Linked DNA regions of Homo sapiens. The protein of the gene in region 1 purifies or fractionates together with the protein of each later gene. This does not show direct contact. Each region holds a gene or a part of one and is shown on either strand. Other genes may lie near its edges.

Region 1 (7,026 bases):
TTTTACTCTTCATGAAAGCTTTGGCTTACTGTTGGGTGTTTATTTTATTGAAAGCAGTATATAGATTTAATTCTTAGATATCCTCATTTATGTGTATTACACTCTTACTAATTTGTTAACTGAATGTATGTGGTTCTATCACACACATACTGTGAAGTTCGTGCCACACTGCATGAGTTGGAAATCAGCTGTCCTGAGAGCTGACTGAAAGGCAACATCCCAGACCATGGGATTTTTAGTTAAAGGATTTAAAAGTTACACTTAGCTGTAAAAAATTAAAATTAAGAACCTTGGTTGCCAGTTAATCCCAGTTTTTTCCCCACACCAATCCTGATTTGTGTCTACTGTTGGTATCTTAATCTTGTTAGTCTCTACCAGTCTGTGCCTTAGTAGCACTCTCTGTAAAAATGGGAGAAAGCAACTATTTTTATAACAAAGTAGATTTGCCTTGCTCATAATTCTGAGGATTAGGAATAAGAGTCTGTATTTAATTCATTAATCTTTGAGGATTTGGTGAAATGTAAAATAATGATTGCTGCACCTTAGGGGGATCAGTTCTGCAAATTTGTGTAAGATAAACTGGAGCAGAAAAAGATGAGATAAGGAGATAAATTAATAGGCTCCTAAAGTAATCCATGTAAGAGGTAATGAATACTTGAATGTGGTTAGAAGAACTAAAAGGGAGATCCCTGATACAGACAACATTGTAAGGATAAAGTCCAGAAGCCTTTGCAGATTAAATGTGGAGTGTAGGCCAGAGTAGCAACAAGTAAGGGAATGAATTTGGATCTGGTCTAGGTGATGATAGTTTGGTCTCCATAAATAGAAATAATGGATTTGGGAAGCATTTGTTTTGGTGGAGTTAGTAATGTTTGAAGCTTATTGTCAGGACTTAGAAGCCATGTAGGTATTGGGATCAATGAGATGAAGATGTATCTCAGGAGATAGTTGGGGATTAGAGAGGTAGATTTGGTAGATAATAAAGCAATAGTTATAATTGAGATCATCAATAGGGAAACTAGAGGTTAAAATCCTTGAGTTGGAGGATACCTGGGAAATGTGGGAAAAGTCAAGGATGGTAGGATCTAAGAAAAGCCTCTTAAATTTGGTAATATGGTGTTCAGTAGTGTGACAGCAGTAAAATAAAGAAATAAAGGTTTCTTCCTTCCTTTTCTTTCCATGTGTGCTTAATACATATATGATGCGCAAATATCTTTTTTTAAACCTGAGTTGAAAGTTATAATATTAATGAAACATTTCTTAAGAACAAAATGGTATTATCTCCTGAATACCATAAGGAAGCAGTATTAAAGAGTTAGGCTTTTAGTATTATTGCCATCTTTTCTACCCTGTTACCCTTTTCTCTTCCCTGCCTTTATTCCTTAACTCTCCACGAGAAAGGCATCAGCCTTTGGTCTTCAAAATAAGAACTAGTACAAAAGATTTCATGAGAAAAATGGATCCTGAAAGCATATATTATTGAGGATTTTTGCTTTTCTATACTGCTAAAAATGCCTGCATTTTAAGTTTATCATTAAGGTGAGCTTTGGAAAAAATTTTAGCCTAATGTCGTCTTCTGCTATGGTTGAAAAATTGCAGGCTTTGGCATAGCTGTCCCCAAAATATCTTAGCACACTTTTTTATTTTTTAACGTTTTGAATTTTTTTTTCTTTAAGAGAGAGACAGGCTCTCACTCTGTCACCCAGGTTGGGGTGCTGTGGTGTATTCATAGCTCACTGCAGCTTTGAACTCCTAGGCTGAAGTGGTCCTATCACCTCAACCTCCCAAATAGTTGGGACTACAGGTGTGCCACCATGCCTGGCTAAATTTTTAAAACAGTTTTGTAGAGACGGTTTCTCACTAGGTTGCCCAGGCTGGTCTCAAGCTCTTGGCCTCAGGTGACCCTCCCACCTCAGCCTCTCGAAGTGCTGGGAATGCAGACGTGAGCCACTGTGCCCAGCCAACACACGTTCTTGACACGGTGAGGACATGCTCCATACCATGTCCACTAAAAGTCTGGGTAGAAAAATCAGTTCCAAATGCTGAAGGAAATGCCTCCAGCCCACTGTATTTGTGAAGAAAATCTTGGGTATCAGGGCTGCTATTTTAATTTTGCCTTAAAACAAGCATTGCTCAGAATACATGTTGTACCAAAGAATATAGACTTGACTTTGCTTGTACATGTGACTGTTTTAAGAAAGCAGTGTCGAGGCCACAATTAGAAGCAGAACACATTTAGTTTCTTTGCCTGCAGCCCCAATGTCTTTGGTACATCTGTGTCCTAAATCATAGTTGTAGTAATGTTTGTATTCATCACACAGCATCAAAAATTAGGTAAGTATGACAGGCAAGTGCCTAGTGTGTTTTAGTGGTATTTTCAAAATGAATTCATGTCACACCCAAATGAATTGCTCTCTCAGGGAACCCAGTAGAGAAGGTTGTACCTGAGTTAACTTCCAGAGCATCCTCTGCCTATCTGCCTATTTCTGCCAGTGGCCAGAATGAATTTGTGTGGTATATTTTTCTCCTAATTTTTATAGCTTTTAATGTCTACCTAATGCTCCAAGTTTAGTCTGATTATTTAATGTGCAGAAATCATTAAAACCATTTTCTGCCTCACAAAAAACTAAATCATTGGCTGTTACTAAACAATAATTAAGATTTATACTTCATAGGTATGTAAGTATAAAATCAGCAATAAAAAGACCAGGTGCAGTGACTCACACCTGTAATCCCAGTGCTTTGGGAGACCAAGGCTGGCGAATCACTTGAGGCCAGGAGTTTGAGACCAGTCTGGCCAACATGGTAAAACCCCATCTCTACTAAAAATATAAAAATTAGCCAGGCGTGGTGATGCACACCTGTAATCTCAGCTACTAAAGAGGCTGAGGCATGAGAATCTCTTGAACCCTGGAGGCGGTGGTTGCAGTGAGCTGAGATCGCGCCACTGCACTCCAGCCTGGGTGACAGAGTGAGACTCTTTAAAAAATAAAAAAAAAATAAAATCAGCAATACAAGTTTTTGTGAGCAAGAAGAAGCAATTTTGTTCTTGCTTCTTTATGATTAACCTACCCAAGAACCTTAATTACTACAGAGATAAAACTAAACTGCTTTTTAAAAAATAAAGTAGCAGTAATAGTTATGCTAAATATGTAATATTAGCATAACTAATATTAGCTATTAGCATAACTAATATTAGCTATTAGCATAACTAATATTAGCTAGCTATTAGCATATTATTAGCATAACTAAATATTACATATTACTAAATATGCTAATAAGTAATAGTTATGCTAAAAATGTGTCAATTTAGTGTCAGCAACCTTTTTTTTAAATAGATGTATTCGGGCATTAACGATACAGATTTTTGCACCCCAGTTAGACTGTTCCTGCTTGTGTTGATATTCTATTATTGCATAACAAGTTACAGTAAACTTACCAGCTTAAAATAATACCTGTTTGTTTTCTAACAGTTCAATAGGTTAGAAGTCCTGGCATAGCATGGCCAGGTTCTGAACTCATGGTCTCACAAGGCTGAAATCAAAGTGTTGGCCAAGGCTGGGGACTCATGTGAAGCTTGGGGTCCTCTTCCAAGCTCATGTGGTTGTTGACAGAATGCAGTTCCTTGGGACTGTAGGACTGTGGCCCTTGTTTTCTTTCTAGCTCTCAGCCAAGAACCACTGACAGCTCCCAGAGGCCACGTGCAGGGCCTTGCCATGCGTGGTCTCCATAGGCGGTTCACAACATGCATGTTTGCTTCTCCCGGGCCAGCAGTTTTATCTCTTTACTTCAAGTCTCTTCTTCCAGGAAGGCCTAATTTCTTTTAAGAGATTACCTGATATATCTGCCCTCTCCAGGGTAGTTTGCCTTTTGGTTAACTCAAATGCAACTGATTTGGAGCCTCATATATCTATAAAATGCCACCAATTTTGTCACATAATAGGACCTAATAATGGGAGTGACATCCATCATATTCACAGGCCAGATACAGTCAAGAGGGATGATATGGGGCATGTACACCAGGGGCAGGAATATTGGGGCCATCTCAGAATTCTTCCTACCATGTTGCCATAAGTAAAGGGGTCTTCTCAAATATGCTCAACAGGTGCTAGCTTTTATCTTTCATCAAATTTTTGGAAAAATAATACCAAAATATTAACTGAGAAATAATTTTTCCTTAGATTTTGTGTCATCCTGAAGTTCTTTTTAGATTATATAAAACAATTTTTTTTCTTAAATTGGAAAAAATACTTTCCAAAATACTTATTGGATATTAAAATGTTCCAAAAATTATTTTAAGAAAATATATTGCCTAATACCACTGTAACTTAGCATAGTGAGTTGAGGGCTTAGCATATTTAGTAATCTAATTATATCCTCTTACAAGACAAAAATACCTTTGTTTTACAGAGTAATACAAAGGCAAGTCTGTAACTAGTTATTTTTCATTCTAAAAGATATCATAGGTTAGATTTGTTATATTAGATTGTACTGATGGCATATTAGCAAAATTAAAAATGGTTTGATTTCCTGGTCATAAATAAGCTGATTTGCACTATAATAAACAATGAATAAACAATAAGTGAACAATGATGTAGGAAGTATCCTGGTGAAAGCCATATTTACAATAAACTTGACACTTTTTGAATGCCATGTGAATATTATTTCATGAGTATAAAGGATGAGAGTGGTTTAATTAATTGTTCATCTACCAAATAACGTCCACTGCACAGAAAAAAAGACTAATTTCCTTTTTAAAAATCACTACTTATGCCCAATTTTAATAACATTTTAATTGTTTGGCTTTTGAAAATATGCAAATATTAGAACGTGACAAATAATGGTCAGCAGACCAGGTAAGAGACAGGATTTAATTTTCTAGCTCAAATTACTGGTTTTTAATTATAACCTTGACATCTGTATATTTCTGTATCTTTTCTCCACATCTCACCTGCGTTTTCTGAAAGTTCTGTTATATTCCTTATTGCTAATTATGGTTATCTACTTTGCTCTTATTTCCAGGGATGCTCTCAAACTTGTCCAGTTGAAACAAACGGGCAAGATTACCGAGTCCAGACCAACTCCAGCCCCCACAGCCACTCCCACAGCACCTTCGCCCCTACAGGCCACAGCTGGACCATCTTATCCCCGGCCTGTGATCCCACCAGTATCAACTCCTGGACAACCCAATGCAGTGGTAGTGTTCTCTAAGTGGATTTTTATTTCTTTTTCTTGTTTTTCTTTTTTTTTTTGAGACAGAGTCTTGCACTGTCACCCAGGCTGGAGTGCAATGGCACAATCTTGGCTCACTGCAGCCTCTGCCTCCCAAGTTCAAGTGATTCTCCTGCCTTAGCTTCCTGAGTAGCTGGGATTATAGGCACGCACCACCACACCCACCTAATTTTTGTATTTTTAGTAGAGACGGGGTTTCACCATGTTGGCTAGGCTGGTCTCAAACTCCTGACTTCAGGTGATCCACCCGCCTTGGCCTCCCAAAGTGCTGGGATTACAGGTGTGAATCACCGCACCTGGCCTAGATTTTTATTTTTCAGATTCAAGTGTGAGAGAGAAAATAAGAACAATTACTATGTGTTTTAAGAGTAGATTTAAAACAGATTAGTTTTATTAATCCGTTTCAATAGTAGCTAAGTGATAAGGATAAAACACTCCAAATGCTTTGTTTTACAGATTTCCTATCAGAAACCAAAATTTGTTTGTGTGTTAACTTCCAAATAAACATTAGAACTATAATTCAATTTAAAGTTACCACAAGTTCCACAACTTCAGTAACATATATATTCTCTACAATCTCATGTTTCATGTCTTAAGTGTGATACTAATAATTAGTAGCTGACACTAGCTCCCTTTTGTGGATATGTTCTACTTTTTAACTAGGGAATTGATAATCTCACTATGAAGAACTATGTAGCTAGTCATTCTTTCCTTCTCAGATGCATGCAGTATAACAGCCCCTTTTTGTTTTCAAATTACTCCATTTTGCCTCTCTGTGCCTTTCCTATTCAGGTTATTTTCTTCCTATCAGAAGAAATGTAGGATAGCCCAGTTTATTTAAAATCGAATGGGCACTTAAAAAAATAAATAGATAAATGTGTACTCCTAGTGGAGAACTATATACCATATGATATTTTAAAAGAGTTGAAAACAGTACAACTTTCATGGGAAACAGATTTTTAAATATCCATTAATGATTAATATACTGCATACTTGAATAACCTGCTCTTTAAGGACATGCAGTTGGATAAGATACTATGTATATTGAGTGTATAGTCCACTCTTTGACTATATAATGTATATGGACTATGAAATATGTATAATTCAATCATATGTCTTTTAAAAGTAGGTTATTCAAGGCTGGGTGTGGTGGCTTACACCTGTAATCCTAGCACTTTGGGAGGCTGAGGTGGGAGGATTGCCTGCACCTAGGCATTCAAAGACCAGCCTGGGCAACATAGTGAGACCTCATCTCTACAAAAAAATTTTAAAATCAGCTGGATGTGGTAGTGTGTGCCTGTAGTCCAACTACTCAGGCGGTGGAGATTGGGGAATCACTTGAGACTGGGAGGTTGAGGCTGTAGTGAGCTATGTGCACTCCAGCCTGGGTAATAGAGGAAGACCCTATCTCAAAAAAAAAAAAAAAAAGTTATTCAAATTAAGGAGGTAAACCTTACTTTCAAATTCTTATGGTATGTAGAGAGCATTTATTCTACTTGACCAAGTACTTTGCTAACATAAAATGTTTAATTTCTTAATGATATTTGTAAAAATGAAATCAGCCGCACTTTCATTTGCTTTGTATTATCTTGAAGTGATTGTAATGAAATCCCAAAATAGAGTGAAGGACAAGAAAGGAATTAGATATAATTTAAAATCTGTCATGCTTTTTTGAGAGATCCAAGGAACAGAATGGAAAAACTACAGTGAAGTTATAGGAATATTTTATTATCTCATTCATACTTTCTATTATGAATCTGTAAGAAATAAGATACTCATGTTATTTTTAAAAAT
Region 2 (7,026 bases), on another chromosome or scaffold:
CACCTCTTAGAAATAATCATTGTTACCCACTTAGTGTATTATCTTTTAGATAGGTTTTATTTGGTTTTACAAACATGGAATTAGACTAGTCTATCAAAATGTTGCAATTATTGGACCCGAGATGGAAAGAACAGTTAAGCACCATGTTCTTGGAGAGCCAAGAGGGGAGAAGGGAAGCAGCTGCTGAATGGAAGCGCTATACCTTTCCACAGGCATTTTAGTACTGCTGGCAAACCCAGATCCAGCCCATCACAGGAGTAGCTACTGTTTTACCTCTTCCTTTCAAAACTTTTCAACAAGCAACTTTTTCTGATTGTATAATTGAAGTTGGGGAAGAGTTGGGAAGTGAAAAGACCAAGAGTGTTTTATAGAAATTAATCTACATCAAGTTTTATAAAAGTGAATCTTACTAAAAGTGAAAGTTAACAATGTCATAACAACTTGGGTATTTTAAAGAAGAATGAGAGGAGAATTTCCTCCTTATTTGATTACATTTTGCTGTCTCCAGTTATTGCCCCAAAGTGAAGTTTTCAAAATGAGAATGAAAATATGAAGAGTGACTTGGATGTATTATTTATTTTCTTTATGTAAACGGTGCTATTTCATTAGTTTAAGCAGGGTGAAAACCAATTTCTTTATCTTTTTTGTGTGAAAGGTAGATCAGAATTAGTTCTTTTGTCTGTTCAGAGACTGCCTAGTTTCAATCAACTGGAACTGATGAGTTTGAGCTACATTGGGGGATGGTTACATAACCTACAAGTAACTTAGTAACCTTACAAATAATTTAACTTACTTTAACCCTACAAAGAATTTTACCGAAAAATTTTAAGACCACTTTAAATTTTTTTTAATAAAGTTAAATGGGCCTTTGAAGAGGATTGTGGTAGTTATCAGTAACATCAGTAAGATTTCAGGTCTTAATGGTTGAGAATTCCGACTACAGAGGATATAGAAAATTGAGCTGGTAAGACTTTAGTCAGCATATTTGTAGATACTCAAAAGTGAAAAATGCCAATATCTAGCTCTTAGGCATAGGAAGAGTGCTATACTAGGACTTCTAACCTTGGTAAGTATTTTGGTTTCATCTGAAAATTTAAAATTATAGTAGGTAGTGAAGAACTCTTTAAAATTACATTATTGTCATGAAAAGCTGCATTTAATAAAATGTTTTCAGGCCAGTCTTGCTGCTCTTTTCTGGTTAATACTGTAGGACAGCAAGGTAGCTGAAACCAAAAGCCATGATTTATTTTTAGAGACCATAATTCTTTTTCTTAAACAAATTTGTGCTCAACATCAGTAGGTAGCACACAAGTGGGGACAGTGCACCTCAATGTATTTTAAATTGGGATAAAACAGTTATTATAAAAGACTCTTCTTTACATACATAGTAATTCTTCATTTCTAGGATGGAAAATTAGTGCCAATGACTGTTTTCCACAAAACTGACTCTGAGGACTTGCAGAAGAAACCTCTCTTGGTACATGTATATGGAGCTTATGGAATGGATTTGAAAATGAATTTCAGGCCTGAGAGGCGGGTCCTGGTGGATGATGGATGGATATTAGCATACTGCCATGTTCGGTGAGTCAGTATATTTTACCTGGCATGTAAGTGCTAGACCATTGTGAGAGATGTCAAGAATAACAATATATATCAGGGAACAAAAGCTTATTTTTTTCATTCTTATTATTCAATTTTTGTATTCCTAAACCAGCACTGGTGAAACTTGATTCTTTAACAGATTAGTTGATCCAAAAAGCAAAAGGATAGGTTTTTAGGATTTTTGCATAGAGGTACCAGACTCTGTACTTATTTAGTAATATTATTATTTCCTTTCAGTTCTCCTGAATTCAGGTTTAAGTAGCCTCTGAATCTGAACTGTTTTCCATTTAACTTCCATTTTATTTCAGCTGTTTTCAAGACACAAATATTATTTTGTATTTCTGCTTAAAATTCTTCTCCACCTCCCCATCTCTAGAACACAGTCCAGATTCCCCAGTATAATACTCCTAATGGTCTGATGGATCTCTGTAGCGGCATTTAGCATCAGACCCTTTTTTTTTTTTTTTTTTTTTTTTTGTTTGAGACAGTTTTGCTTTGTCGCCCAGGCTGGAGTGCAGTGGCACAATCTCGGCTCACTGCAACCTCTGCCTCCCAGGTTCAAGTGATTCTCATGCTTCAGGCTCCTGAGTAGCTGGGACTACAGGCGCACACCACCACACTGTCTGAATTTTTTTTTTTTTTTTTTTGAGATAGAATCTTGCTCTGTCGCCCAGGCTGGAGTGTGCAGTGGCATGATCTTGGCCAGGGTTCAAGCGATTCTCCTGCCTCAGCCTCCTGAGTAGCTGGGATTACAGGTGCCTGCCATAACTCCTGACTAATTTTTGAAATTTTTGTAGCGATGGGGTTTCACCATGTTGGCCAGGCTGGTCTCGAACTCCTGACCTCAAGTGATCCGCCCGCCTCAGCCTCCCAAAGTGCTGGGATTACAGGCATGAGCCACCGTACCAGCCCGATTTTTTTGTATTTTAGTAGAGACAGGGTTTTCCAATGTTGCCCAGGCTGGTCTCGAACTCCTGAGCTCAAGCAGTCCGCCCGCCTCAGCCTTCCAAAATCATGTCCTTTTATTTTTTTTATTTTGTTTTGTATTTTTTTGAGATGGAGTCTCACTCTGTCTCCCAGGCTAGAGTGCAGTGGCGCAATCTCCGCTCACTGCAACCTCCGCCTCCCAGGTTCAAGTAATTCTCTTGCCTCAGCCTCCCGAGTAGTTGGGCTTATAGGCACGCACCACCACACCTGGCTAATTTTTTCTATTTTTAGGAGAGACGGGGGTTTCACCATGTTGGCCAGTCTGGTCTCAAACTCCTGACCTCAAGTGACCTGCTCACCTCAGCCTACCAAAATGCTGAGATGACAGGCTTGAGGCACTGTGTCCAGCCCCCAAAGTCATGTCTTTTAAATGACATGCTCTGTCACCTCCTTGCCCTTATACATGCTGTGTCGTATCTGTGTCTTAATGCCTTTTCTTTGCCCTCTGGAAACTCAAATTTTTCCTTCACAACTCAGTTTAGGCATCATCTCCTTAAAAGCATTTGTGTTCCTGACTCGTGTATATACCCCTCACCTGGCAGATGGATGTTCTTTCCTCTGCTCCTGTAATACCTTAAATACACTTGTATTGTAGCAATGACACCACATTGCTGGGTAAGTCGTTGTTTTCTTACCCCACAAAATTACTGTCTTCTCCACGGTAGGGGATTTTCGTTTGTTTCTACTTTTAAGGTCTGTACTTAATCCCTGATAAATGGGCAGGCACTCAAAATATATTCGTTGAATCAATTCTGGATTGTCTATATCAGGAGTTGGCAAACCTTTTTCTCTAAAGAGCTACATAGTCACATTTTAAGCTTTGCAGGCCGCGTACAGTTTCTGTTGCACATTCCTTGTTTTCACTCAACCTTTAAAAAGCAAAAACCAGTCTTAGCTCCAGGGCCACACAAAAAACAGGCCTCCAGGTGTAGTTCGCTGACCCCAGCCTACAGTATTAACTTTTTTTTTCCACTAAAACTTTTTTGCCCTTCAATTTCAGAGGTGGTGGTGAGTTAGGCCTCCAGTGGCACGCTGATGGCCGCCTAACTAAAAAACTCAATGGCCTTGCTGATTTAGAGGCTTGCATTAAGACGCTTCATGGCCAAGGCTTTTCTCAGCCAAGTCTAACAACCCTGACTGCTTTCAGTGCTGGAGGGGTGCTTGCAGGAGCATTGTGTAATTCTAATCCAGAGCTGGTGAGAGCGGTGACTTTGGAGGTGAGTACGCTCTGTCTCTACTGTTTATAGAATGGGGGAGGTGTGAAGCCATAGGCTACTCTAAGAAAAATGTTTTTGGGCTGGCACAGCGGCTCATGCCTGTAATCCCAGCACTTCGGGAAACTGAGGTGGGCAGATTGCTTACCAGGAGCTCGAGACCAGCCTGGGCAACATGGCGAGACCCTGTCTCTGCAAGAAATTAAAAAAAAAAAAAAACCTACCCAGGCTTGTTGGTAAGAGGATCTCTTAAGAGGTTGAGGCTGCAGTGGACCACTGTGCTCCAGCCTGGGCAACAGAGTGAGACATTGTCAAAAAAAAAAAAAAAAAAGGAAAGAAAAACATTTCTGTTACAGTTTTACCATAGCATAGGAGTATAACAAAGCTTTTAAGTTTTAAACTCAGAATTATAGCTTGAGGAGAACTTCTAAAGTTATTTTAATCCAACTATTAACCGTTATTCTTCTCTGATACAGTGTTCTTTATTATCTTTAAGGCTTTCCACTGAAAGATATTAATGGCTATTTCCATTGCTCATTTGTATTTGTAAGGACATTTAGAATTGGTGAAAAAGCACTGAAGCATATATGAGTCCCAGTTGAGAAAGCCAGGCAAAGCACGCTGTGACTCTGGAATGCACTGAGTCCTTTGGCTCCTGGTCACCTTGACAGGCTACTGCCCATCAACATTTCAGTCCTAGATTTATAGGCTCTTTATTTTTAGATAGTCCATTCTTAATGGTCGTTTGGGCATAGTTTTTCCGTATTTTAATTGAAATATCTTACCCTGTTCTGAAAATGATTATCTTTTCCCAGTGTCAGAAATTACGAAGTTACATTGTAGCAGTTGGTTTCACTGCTATCATTCTCCTACTTCTAGGTTACTCTGAAAAATAATGACTGAGATGGGAGAGAGTAAATTATTTTCAGGATTTTTTATTTTGAGGTTGGGGAGTTTATACTGTGGGCTTGTAAATAAGTGTTAAATAGTAGTCACCTGTAAGTCTATTTTTTAAAAACAGAAAAATGTGGAGAATAGCCTATGCACAAAGATAATGGCAGAATTATTTACAGTTTAAAGACAAAGCAACTAGATTTTGACTTTTAGAAATTTAAAAGGAAATGATGAGAAGGATATTTATGCTAGGTTGCTTATTATAGTGAAGACTAGGAGACAACCTTTTATACATGTATAAGTCAAATTCTTCTTATAAGCACCAAAAATCAACCCTAATTTAAGCAGAAAAGGGATTAAAGGGCATTAGGAAAATGTAGGTGTCTTCAGACCAGTGTTAGAGGCTTCAGAGCCAAAGGCATAGAATTGGCCCAATGAAACTATTACTGCCGCCACTGCCAAGCACAAATCACCTCACACTGCCAGTGCAACTTCTAGAGCTGGATATAGCTGTGGCACTTTTGCCAGAATAAATTATCTGTGATCACTGCTTCTTTGAATCACTAACTTTCCATGCAGAGTGTAAAGCACATGTGTCTGGTTGATAGACCCAAGTCACACATGGGTCACACAGCTACTCCCAAGCTGCAGGGAAAAATGGGAAAGAGAAGTCTAGCACTTAGTATCTCCACAGTGAGAGGCAGGCTCTAGCTGATAAGGTTGGAGGTTTTTCAAATGCAAAAAAGTTCATATGGTAGGCAGCCAAAAAGAATTACAGATGACTCACTATACTTGGTTAATGTTAATATGAGGGAAAGCTAAAAAGTATGTTAACAGAAGAAAATAAAGCTAAGTGAAAAATACAGCCTTCATTTTTGTTTTGTTGTTTTTGTGGGGTTTTTGTTTTTTTGTTTTGTTTTGTTTTGTTTTTTGAGTCAGAGTTTTGCTCTTTCACCCAGGCTGGAATGCAATGGCACACGAACACAGCTCACTACAGCCTCGACCTCTGGGGCTCAGGTGATCCTCCCACCTCAGCCTCCTGAGTATCTGGGACTACAGGCATGTGCCACCATGCCCTGCTAATTTTTGTGGTTTGTTGTTGTTTTGTAGAGATGTGGTTTTACCATGCTACCCAGGCTAGTTTCAAACTCCTGGGCTCAAGTGATTTGCCCACCTCAGCCTCCCAATGTGCTGGGATTACAGGCATGAGCCACCATGTGCGACCCAGCCTTCGTTTTATTAAATTTTGTAACACTAATTATAAGCCAATGGGTTGTTTTCTCTTCTTTCACCTTGGGTATTTTGCAGAGTTTCTTTACTTAGCGTTTTTTGCTTTTAATATAAAATGTCCAACTGGTCAAAAAGACTTTATTCCTTGTGTATTTTTTTCATTTAAAAATTTTTAATTATGGTAAAATACCATAAAATTTACCATCTCAACCATTTTTAAGTGAATAGTTCAGTAGTGGTAAGTGCACTCATAGGCTTATGCAGTCAATCTCCAGAACTCGTTTTTCATCTTAACAAAACTGAAACCCTGTACCGATTAAACAGCTCTCCATTTGCTTCTTCCCACAGCCTCTGTCTCTGTGAATTTGACTACTCAAACACCTCACATAGGTGGAGTCATACAAAATTTTTTGTGACTGGCTTATTTCACTTAGATTATATCCTTGAGGTTCATCCATATTGTAGCGTGGATCAGAATTTTATTCATTTTTAAGGCTGAATAATATTCCATGTAATATTGCATGTGTATACCACATTTTGCTTATTCGTTCTTTGGTTAATGGACACTTGAGTTGCTTCCACCTTTTGGCTGTTGTGAATATGCTGCTGTGAACATAGGTATGCAGATCTCTTTAAGACCCTGCTTTCAGTTTTGGGGATTATATGCCAGGAGTGGAATTGCTGGATCATATGGTAATCTTAAGCTTAACTCTTTGATGAACCACCATACTGTTTTCCAAAGCAGCTCCCCCATTTTACATTCCAACCACCAGTGTATCAGGATTCCGGTTTCTCCACATTACTGCCAATACTTGTTGTTGTTGTTGTTGTTTTAATATAATAACTAACTGTCCTAATTGGTATGAGACAGTAGCATTTATTGCTTTTATATAAGAAAAAATATAAATGAATAAAAGGTACTAAGCTAAAAATAAATATTGTGAAATTAGAAGATAAACCATTTCTTGTTATATGTCATTTAAGGAATCTGAAGACTTTAAAAGTAGGTTATAAATTACAGGCCCTGGTTAAGGACTGAGTATTCTAGCTCCTAGGAATCTACATGGCTTGAGTTATTTTCTCTCATATTAGTATGTAT

The links.
Region 2: the proteins of PDHX (region 1) and PREPL purify together in Homo sapiens (affinity purification with mass spectrometry; 2 studies listed by BioGRID and IntAct, with this or other methods). This does not show direct contact.

Annotation. Positions count from the first base shown.
Region 1 is NC_000011.10:34,961,618-34,968,643, forward strand, and holds part of PDHX (pyruvate dehydrogenase protein X component, mitochondrial isoform 1 precursor), read left to right. Parts: intron 1-5,022; coding exon 5,023-5,197; intron 5,198-7,026.
Region 2 is NC_000002.12:44,323,492-44,330,517, reverse strand, and holds part of PREPL (prolyl endopeptidase-like), read left to right. Parts: intron 1-1,405; coding exon 1,406-1,581; intron 1,582-3,589; coding exon 3,590-3,806; intron 3,807-7,026. UniProt on the Homo sapiens protein: Serine peptidase whose precise substrate specificity remains unclear. Does not cleave peptides after a arginine or lysine residue. Regulates trans-Golgi network morphology and sorting by regulating the membrane binding of the AP-1 complex.